Homo sapiens: one gene and its partners. The protein of the gene in region 1 purifies or fractionates together with the protein of each later gene. This does not show direct contact. Each region holds a gene or a part of one and is shown in the gene's direction. Other genes may lie near its edges. The genes, in order: FKBP3, ABCF1 and LRRFIP1.

Region 1 (3,653 bases):
ACCCAGGCTGGAATTCAGTGGCACAATTTTGGCTCACTGCAACCTCTGCCTCCTGGATTCAAGTGATTCTCCTGCTTCAGCCCCCTAAATAGCTGGGATTTCAGGCGCCTGCCACCATGCCCAGCTAATTTTTGTATTTTTAGTAGAGATGAGGGTTTCACCATGTTGGCCAGGTTGGTCCCGAACTCCTGACCTCAGGTGATCAACCCTTCTGGGCCTCCCAAAGTGCTGGGTTTACAGGTGTGAGTAACTGCGCCCAGCTGATTGAAAGATTTCTATGCTGTATGCACCTGCTCTACTGAGAAGGTCATGGAAAAGACAAGAGTTCAAAGGCTGATAGAATTCTGGAACTTCAGGGAGGGATAGATTAAGATCCTGCATGGTTTAGGCCTTTGGACACAAAACTATAAGCAGTAATTGTTAATATCACTCTAGCAGTTGAGTAGAGGACTGACTCAAGGTGTCAGAGATAAACACAATCGGACATTAAAGTGGTGAAAACAGATTTTATTCAGCCTACTGACAGTAGGGGAAAGAGCTAAACTCCAGTCTGATTTGTGGAGGGGTAACTGGGCCTTTTAAAAGAATGAGGGGGCTGGGCCTGGTGGCTCACGCTTGTAATCCCAGCACTTTGGGAGGCCGAGGCGGGCAGATCACGAGGTCAGGAGATGGAGACCATCCTGGCTAACATGGTGAAACCCCGTCTCTACTAAAAATACAAACAAAAATTAGCTGGGTGTGGTGGCGGGCGCCTGTACTCCCAGCTACTTTGGGAGGCTGAGGCGGGAGAATGGCGTGAACCCGGGAGGCAGAGCTTGCAATGAGCCGAGATCATGCCACTGCACTCCAGCCTAGGTGACACAGCAAGACTCCATCTGAAAAAAAAAAAAAAAAAAAAAAAAAAAAAAGGAGTAGAGAGGGATTTAAGCAGAGTTAGAGAAGTGAAAAATTACATAAAGTAGGAAGTGGGGTTGGTCCATATGAAACCCATCTGAGTTTGCCAACTGGCGCTTATCAAAATCAGGCTCCCACAGAGACAGAGACAGGGGTCCTATCTTCATCTTGAGGCGTTGGCTGGAACAAACAGTAAATTTTTTTTGGCAGCCTTAAGTTTTCTTAGGCGGACACTTTAAGGAGGGATCAGGTCCTCCTAGGAATAAGGCCTTGAGCTATTTGAAACTTGTGTTTGTTCAAATCTTTATAGTCCAAGGTTGAAGGCTTGTGAAGAAGAGGTCTCAGAGGACCCTAGCTAGGGTTTGGTCAGGGAGAGAATCTTTTGCCCAAGAGGTAGACTATTTGCAAGGAGATCAGACTTTTTTTTTTTTTTTTTTAGATGGAGCCTTGCTCTGTCGCCCAGTGGTGCCATCTTGGCTCACTGCAACCTCCGCCTCCTGGATTCAAGTGATTCTCCTGACTCTACCTCCCGAGTAGCTGGGATTACAGGCACACGCCACCACATCCACCTAATTTTTGTATTTTTAATAGAGATGGGGTTTTACCATGTTGGCCAGGCTGATCTCAAACTCTTGACCTCAAGTGATCCACCCACCTTGGCCTCCCAAAGTGCTGAGATTACAGGTGTGAGCCACCGCACCCAGCACAGATATTTTTACTTACAAGTTTTGGAAAAGGATAAAACCTTCAGCTAGGGAAATGAAAGTGAATAAAAATTTGCATAACTTGACCAATTAGAAATAGATCAGGAATAGGCCAGGCGCGGTGGCTCACACTTGTAATCCCAACACTTTGGGAGGCCGAGGCGGGCGGATCACGAGGTCTGGAGTTCGAGACCATCCTGGCCAACATGGTGAAACCGTGTCTCTACTAAAAATCCAAAAAATGAGCTGGGCGTGGTGGCAGGCGCCTGTAGTCCCAGCTACTCGGGAGACTGAGGCAGGAGAATCACTTGAACCCAGGAGGCAGAGGTTGTTGCAGTGAGCCGAGATCACACCGCTGCACTCCAGCCTGGCGACAGAGTGAGACTCCATCTCAGAAAAAAAAAGAAATAGGTCAGGAATAAAGAAAACACTTTTCTCTTGCTTTTCAAACTCAGGAACTAATAGATATGAATTATTGGATATCCAAGCACACCTTTGTTATTTATTTTATGAAATTTAGAAACCAAATATAGATTTGGATAATGCAGATCCCTCTGAATTTGGTCTGAATTCAGAAACCAAATAGATTTAGGTAAGGATACTTTTAAATTCGGTACACTTCTTCTTTTTTTTAATTAACTCCCTAAGATTCTTGACAGTTCCTCTGTCTGCTTTCCTCTCATATATGAATTGCTATTGATTAGATTAATATGTAACCTTTTTTGTAGAAGACCCTGATAATCCTACTTTGTTCTAGGAAATATGCCTGTTATAGCAATTTCTTTAGGTAATTTCATCCATTGTGTGAATTTATTTTCCAAATCGGGGACAGAGGCAATATCACTGTATTCATTCTAATTGGTTATTATAAAAACACCTAGTAATATCAATTATTGCTGCTAAAACAGTTCAAATCTTTGTGGGGGGGAAGTCACCATCCCTTATTTTAATGCCTTATGATTTCATAGGAATTAAATAGTAATGATTTTTTTTAACTTTAGGAAATAACTGAAATCATGTTATGGTTTGGTGAATTATTAACAGAATCTTATTAGAAGAATTTAGGCTTCCAAAGAAGCTGGAAGTTATTTGAAATTAAATTATAGATGTGTAAGTTACTAATAGTCACATCACAGCCTTGAAATTAGATACTGAGGGTTTTGTTTGTTTATTTATTACCAAATCCATCAAACTCTTTAAACTGACTTTGGTCATTGTTGGCTATTGTTTGTCATTCTTTTAAAGGACACAAATTAATAACTCTGTGTGTGTGTGTTGTTTTTTGTTTTTAGGGTCCACCAAAATATACTAAATCTGTTCTGAAAAAGGGAGATAAAACCAACTTTCCCAAAAAGGGAGATGTTGTTCACTGCTGGTATACAGGAACACTACAAGATGGGACTGTTTTTGATACTAATATTCAAACAAGTAAGTCTAAATGGAATCTTATGTTTTTGGCTTAAAGAGATTCTAAATACTTGGGTGGCAGACAGATGAGTAGTTAGCAGTACCTTTTTCCTGACTGTCACCTACTTTCATCCAGACATACTTTCCCCCAAGATCTACTTGGAAGAGGTCTTCAGTTCACTGATTATTGGCTGGCTAAAGACCTCTTGTTCTTTGGAAAGCAAAAGATAAGGAATCTCAGTCTAAACCTGGTTAATGTCCCAAAGTAAGGCATTAGTATTTGAATAGAAAAGGCAGGATAGTATGCTGTTTTGTGATATAAGTATAGGTCCTACCCCTCTACCCTTTGTTAAGAATGTAATTATTTTTACAGCCAGAATTTTATTGATGGATGATCTTTGTAAATTTTTTCCTTCTTTTAAAATACATAGTATTGTAATTCTGAAATCAAACCACTATATTTTTCCACTGGAATTTAATAATTTCCAATGGAAATTTCTTAATAATAAATTAGAGTATATCATTAATGATAAGGAAAATCTGTTTTACAGGTGCAAAGAAGAAGAAAAATGCCAAGCCTTTAAGTTTTAAGGTCGGAGTAGGCAAAGTTATCAGAGGAGTAAGTAAAGAATGCCAATGAATCAGTAG
Region 2 (4,270 bases), on another chromosome or scaffold:
GGAGGAATGGAGAAAGAGGATGATGACCTTTCAGTTTTGGCCCAAATAACTGAATGACCTGTGGTGCAATTTCTTGATGGGGAAGCCTGGAAGAGACAGGCTTTAGGAGTAAGAACAAGAGCTCCATTTTGTACGTATGAGAGAGATTTATTAAAGATCTCAGAGAAGATGTCCCATAAGCAGTTGAATTCATGAGCCTGGAGCTCGGGGCAGAAGTTGGGGGCCAGCAAGAGAAGTTTGGGAATCTTCATTGGTTATAGATGGTATTTAAAGTCAGGAGGTGATAGGTGATAAGTCTAGATTAAGGAGAGTGTCAAAGATTTAGCCCTGAGGCACTTCAACATTTAGACTTCAGGAGAAGCCCATTAGATGCAAAGGAAACCTATAGAGAGTAGTGTCCCTGAAGAAAACAAAGGAGGGAGGGAGCGACCAAGTCTATCAAACATTGATGGGAGAGTGAGTAGGATGGCCCCAGATCTGTTGACTTTGGCAAGTGTGAATTCAGACAATGGTGGCAACAAAAGCATGATTGTAGTGGTTTGAGAGCTGACAGAACTACAGGAGCACCTTGCTCAAGCTCCCATATTAAGTGGTAGAGTTAGAAGTGAACCAAAGTCTTGATTGTGGTGATAGTTTACTGGGTTTATGCAGGTCAAAACTTATTTAAGTGATACTTTGCAGTTTATTTTGGGTGCCATTTTATTTTGTGTACAGTTTATTGTATGTCAATTATATCTCAGTAAAGCTGTTACCAAAAAAAATAAATGAACCGAAGCTCCACTGCACCGTGACTTCTGCATGTTGGGCTCCAGTTCCCTGTTTACAATTGTACACTTCGGGATTTTGTGACACATTTCAACACTGGACCGATCAGACCTCTCCCTTAGCCATTGGTCTGCACTGTCTTTTCTGCCCATGACCCAGTCAGTCTCGCGCCCCATGACCCTCTCCTAAAACACGCGCAGTCTCCTCTCTCTTCCCCTTCCTCTCGTGTCTTCCTTGCCTACCAGCCTCACCTGATGGGCTCGTGTTCTCTCCGTCCCCGATCCACTCGGGCTCCGGCAGCTGCTGCTTGGGCGCCTTCGGCATCGCGGTGGCAGAACTAGAAACGAGTTACAGATAGAAACTAGAATATGCTTTTTAAAAAAACAAAAAACAAAACAAACAAAAAAACAGTATGCCTCAACTCCTTCATACTAGTAGGAAATTATTATGTTCATTCCTTGAGTCTCGCGGCGTCGGGAGGTCACGGCGTCAGGCTTCCCAGACAGTCGTAAACGCCATGTGTTTACGCGACTGGAGCAAGCGGACGCCGGCCCCGCTCCGTCATTGCAGGCCACGCCTCCACTGAACCAGGGCCACGCCCCCGAGATGACGGCGAAGCTCGCACGTGCGCAGCCCGGGGGCGGGGTTGGCCGCGCCAGCTTGGAGAGCCAGCCCCATCGGGGTTCCCCGCCGCCGGAAGCGGAAATAGCACCGGGCGCCGCCACAGTAGCTGTAACTGCCACCGCGATGCCGAAGGCGCCCAAGCAGCAGCCGCCGGAGCCCGAGTGGATCGGGGACGGAGAGAGCACGAGCCCATCAGGTGAGGCTGGTAGGCAAGGAAGAAACGAGCAGAGGGGGAAGAGAGAGGAGACTGCGCGTGTTTTAAGAGAGGGTCATGGGGCACGAGACTGACCGGGCCCCTGCGGGAGTTACTGCGCATGCGTGCCGTGGGCCCGGGAGGAGTTTGCCGGGGAGGAGTGGGTTTGGAATCGGGGTTAAAGGAAAGAGATCCAGATGTCGCACGTGACCTAAGTGAGACTGGGCGAGATAAAAGAAAGAGCATATGGCACCGAGGGAGAGATGGGGAGAAATGGGAAAACCTTGCTTAAAAAATTTGGACATCCGCCCCACCATACACTGTATTCCACCAGGAATATATGAGCCCTGCCTCGACCTCCCCTTCCCCCTGCGCGCGCATACACACACCTTGGGAGCCTGTGATCCCCCTTGTTTCTCAAGAGAGGGTGACTCCTTCATGGTTTCTTTCTTAAGACACCCCTCTCACTCAACTGGAGCAAGAGTGTAGATTTTTGATGTTGGAATGAGGGTTAAGGTTTACTTAAAAAGCAGCGAAAGTTTGTTAAGCGCTTGTTTTTAATTAAGCACTCTATATACTGTGCTTTGAGAGGGGAAGGAAAAAAACATGAAGATATCCTCCCAGGGTTGAAGTCAGTTTTAAGGGGGACATAAATGGACACAACTAACCCCAGTAGGTACACAGTAACTAATTTTAAAAGCACTTATTGGATGCCTACTGTATACCAGGTACTGTGTGGAGGAAGTGGGAATGTAGAGATAAAAGATAAGACTTTCCCTCAAGGGACAACCCAGTATGGTGAAGGGTCAGAGCATTAACCAGACAGACAGTGGTTGTCAGAGTATGATGAAGGTGCTTAAGAATGTTATGGGACTGTAGAAGAGAGGAGGAGCATCTACTCAGACAGGTAAGGGAGTGTCAGCAAAGCCTCCCAAGAATATGTAATAGCTGAGTATTTTTTTTTGAGGCACATTGTAGCTCCATCACCCAGGCTGGAGTGCAGTGGCATGAACATGGCTCACTGCAGCCTCCACCTCCTGGGTTTAAAGGATCTTCCTGCCTCAGTCTCCCAAGTAGTTGAGACTACTGGCATGCACCACCACACCTTATTTTTAAAATTTTTTGTAGACACAAGATCTGGCTATGTTGCCTAGGCTGGTCTCAAACTCCTGGGCTCAAGTAATTCTCCTGCCTCAGCCTCCAAAAGTGCTGGGATTACAGGCGTGAGCCACTACATCTGCTCCCCAGAGTTTATTCTTGAAAGATCATCGTGAATTAGCAAGGGGAAGCGCATTCCAAGCCAAGGAAGTTTGTGGAAGGTAGAGATGTAGGCAAGCCTGACTGGTCCCACTAGAGCCTGGTGACTAGTGTGATGAAGTCAGAAAGATGCTCAGGAGACAGATAATGAAAGGCTTTAGATGCCATTCCGAGGAGTTTAATCCTAAAGACATTAAGAAGGAAGGCCCATTGAAGTGCATAAGGAATGATTATGAACAGTTCACCTGTAGCACTGAGCAATGGAGAATGAATGGCCTTGAACTGGTCAAGATGGAGGCGGGGAGACCATTTAGGGGGCTCTGGCCATGATCTAGGTGAGAAGTGGTAAGGGGATAAGCCAAGGCCTGAAGAATAAAGAGTTACTAAGGAGGCGGCATTGATCGGAACTGAGAACTGATTAAATGAAGGGAGAAGTAAGGTTGACACTTAAGTAACCCAGTGACTAGTAGACTATTAACTGAAAGCAGTAATGGACAGGAGAGTAAGAAGTGGAAAGAGATAAGGTGAACTTCTGAATGCTGAGTTAGGCGTTTCTGAGGATTTCTAAAAGGAAATGGCAAGAAGAGAGTTTGTTTAGTCACTGTGGAGAGACAACTATACTAGGAGTAAAGACACAGGCAAGTAGAGTTGAAGTGCTGGATATGGAAGAGTCCCCTAGAGAGTGTTTGCAGATTGAACCAAAAAGAAGGTTAAAGGTGGGAACCCTAAAGAACTTCAGCAATTGCAGGAAGCAGGTGGGGAAGGAGGCTGAAGAGATGAGACTGAGAAAGGCAAACAGCCAGAGAAACTGGAGGCAAACCAGGAGTGAGCAAGATCCCAGAAATTAAATAATGATAGAAGAGAATAAAAAAGGTGTGGAGGTAGGCAGCATGGAATGCTGCAGAGAAGTCAGGCAAAATAAGGACCAAAAAATACTTTGTGGTTTGAGGAGCTAAGGGTTCAGTGGCAACTTTGGCAGAAGTAGTGTTCATTCGGAGATGATACCAGATTGCAGTATGTTTCAAAGGTATGGGAGAAGAGAAAGTGAAGCTTGTGAATTACGATTTTGAGACCCAATGAGGACAAGAATACGAAACAGTAATGGGGGAGAGGGGTATAAGGGTAAAGAAGGCTTGCTTTCTTGCCTTGAAGGAGCAGCTTAAGCGATATACGAAAGGAGAGAAGACACAGTATATCTCTAGCCACACTTAATCTTTTTCAGTTCCTTGGGGATTATACTTTCTCACAATGAAACTCTTCGGAGGCTTTTCCTGTCCCTATAATGAAGTGGATAAGAGTGATTAAAGTACAAAAGATTTTTTTGGTTTTGGTGGGTTTTTTTTTTTTGTGACGGAGCCTCACTCCAGGCTGGAGTGCAGTGGCGCGATCTCAGCTCACTGCAGCCTCAATCGCAGGCTCAAGCCATCTTCC
Region 3 (2,431 bases), on another chromosome or scaffold:
TGCCACCATCTGCTGGCTTCCATTGAGCTGTTGAGAAAGTTGTTGTTTTAACGGTCGGTCCTTTGTAGGGACCTTTTTTTTTCTTCTCTAGTTTCTTTCAGGTTCTGTTTGTCTTTGATTTTCTACAGTTTTACTGTTAGATGTAGTTTATTGGAATCTTTCTGCTTGAGATATATAGTGTTTCTTGGATCTGTGAAGTCTTTTTAAAAATTGATTTTGGAAAATATTCAACCATTAACTCCTTAAATAATTCCTCTTTTTTAGTCTCTCCACTTTCCCCTCTGGAACTCTAATCAGAGGATGTTAGAGATTCTCATTGTCTCCACATTTTTTAACCATCTCTCTTTCATGTTTTCTATCTCCTTACCTCTCTCTATTGGATAATGCCTAAAGTTTTTGCAAAGATTTTCCAGTTCACCATTTTTTTTAAAAAGTGTCTTCATTGTTGATAGTTTCTTGCTGCATGTTCATGTATGTCCTCTTTTTAAATTGTATTCTTATTCTTTAAATATTTCATACACAGCTGTTTGGTTTTCTGTATCTGACAACTGAAACATGCTCAGTCTTTGGGGGTCTAATTCTGTCATTTATTGCTTCTGTTGACTCTCACTCAAATGGTTTGTCACCTTAGTGTTTTGTGAGCTTATGCTTGATTTTAATTTGTAGGAATAACTCCAGGCTTAACTTGTGGAAACTTCCTGCAAAAAGGGCTTGCTTCTGCCTCTGCTAGTGAGGTGGGGTCGGGACTTCTGTCCCAGGACCCAAACAAGCTTCCTTGAGTGTTTTGGGTCGAAAGCAGAGCCATAGACCCTGTTCTTGTCACCCCTCCAAAACCACGTTCTCCCAGCTTAGGGCACCCCACTCTGCCCTGCTGCCTGTGGGTCCAGATGATGCCCTGCTAATGTGGCTTCTGCAGCTCGTCTTCTGCCTGACTCTCAGGCTCCATGGCCCTGGCTCCCAGGTGTGGCCGTCTTGGCCTCAGGCATTCCTGCCTTGGACTCTGGCTGCCAGGGCTGTGGGGACCACCTTCGCCATGCAGTCCAGGCTCAGCTCTTGTTGTTTGTGTTTGTTTACCTCATGCCTCACTTACCTTTTGTGAAACCATCAGGATCCCCACTGGGCGTGTGGCTCACGCCTGTAATCCCAGCACTTTGGGAGGCCGAGGTGGGTAGATCACCTGAGGTCAGGAGTTCAAGACCAGCCTGACCAACATGGTGAAACCCCATCTCTAATAAAATACAAAAAATTAGCCAGGTGTGGTGGTGTGCACCTGTAGTCTCAGCTACTCAGGAGGCTGAGACAAGAGAATTGTTTGAACCCAGAAGGCGGAGGTTGCAGTGAGCCAAGATCACACCGTTATACTCTGGCCTGGGTGACAGAGCGAGACTTTGTCTCAAAAAAAAAAACAAACAAAAAAAGAGGCCGAGCGTGGTGGCTCATGCCTGTAATCCCAGCACTTTGGGAGGCCAAGGCGGACAGATCACGAGGTCAGGAGATCGAGACCATCCTGGCCAACATGGCAAAACCCCGTCTCTACTAAAATACAAAAAATTAACTGAGGGTGGTGGCGCACACCTGTAGTCCCGGGAGGCTGAGGCAGGGGAATCGCTTGAACCCGTGAGGCGGAGCTTGCAGTGAGCCGAGATCACGCCACTGCACTCCAGCCTGGGCGACTGAGCGAGATTCCATCTCAAGAAAAAAAAAAGAAAACCATCAGGATCCCCAAGGGTGTTCCCTCTCTGGAGTCCAGTTGTTTCAGAGGAGGAAGGGCATCATGAGGGACCAGGGGCCAAGTTATCATTTTATTTTTCAGTAGGATTGGAATTTCGGTAACACAGAACCCTGTTATGTTTGGAGGAAACAAGTTCCTTAAAGCTCACTGCCTTTCCTCCGTTCCCAGCTCCGCTCTGCATTGGATAAAACAGAAGAGCTCGAGGTGAGCAACGGCCACTTAGTGAAGCGTCTGGAAAAAATGAAAGCAAATCGGAGTGCACTCTTGTCCCAGCAGTAAATTCCAGCTCTGATCAGGCAACTGGTTGGTGACTGGAGAGCATTGTTTCATAGGCTTTTCTCTGTCCTATCTGGGAGCGCTGCTTCTTCCCCTGCCTTCCGAGAGACGAAGACCGTGGCGAGCTTGGCGCTTAGGGGCTCCCGTGCCATGGCTCACCCCAGGGAGCCCCAGCAGCCACCAGGTGCCTCTGTCTGCAGACCCCTGGCCCGGGCTGGCGCCGACGCTCAGAACCTGCAGGTACTTCATAAGCACACAGGGGCCTCGAGGGAGCTCTGTGTCTGACCGCACAGCAGCCTCTGAATGCCGCTGGAAGTGATGATCAAAGTAAAGATTCAGTTGGGACTTGAGTTTTTTTTTTTTTTCATGTGTCTTGCTGAAGATTAAGGGGAAATGTTACAGTGTTGGGACTTCCTTTCATGG

What was found.
Region 2: the proteins of FKBP3 (region 1) and ABCF1 fractionate together in Homo sapiens (co-fractionation; one large-scale study listed by BioGRID). This does not show direct contact.
Region 3: the proteins of FKBP3 (region 1) and LRRFIP1 fractionate together in Homo sapiens (co-fractionation; one large-scale study listed by BioGRID). This does not show direct contact.

The regions. Positions count from the first base shown.
Region 1 is NC_000014.9:45,120,858-45,124,510, reverse strand, and holds part of FKBP3 (peptidyl-prolyl cis-trans isomerase FKBP3), read left to right. Parts: intron 1-2,890; coding exon 2,891-3,026; intron 3,027-3,556; coding exon 3,557-3,624; intron 3,625-3,653. UniProt on the Homo sapiens protein: FK506- and rapamycin-binding proteins (FKBPs) constitute a family of receptors for the two immunosuppressants which inhibit T-cell proliferation by arresting two distinct cytoplasmic signal transmission pathways. PPIases accelerate the folding of proteins.
Region 2 is NC_000006.12:30,569,976-30,574,245, forward strand, and holds the start of ABCF1 (ATP-binding cassette sub-family F member 1), read left to right. Parts: upstream 1-1,466; 5' UTR 1,467-1,512; coding exon 1,513-1,585; intron 1,586-4,270. UniProt on the Homo sapiens protein: Isoform 2 is required for efficient Cap- and IRES-mediated mRNA translation initiation. Isoform 2 is not involved in the ribosome biogenesis.
Region 3 is NC_000002.12:237,777,522-237,779,952, forward strand, and holds part of LRRFIP1 (leucine-rich repeat flightless-interacting protein 1), read left to right. Parts: intron 1-1,900; coding exon 1,901-2,011; 3' UTR 2,012-2,431.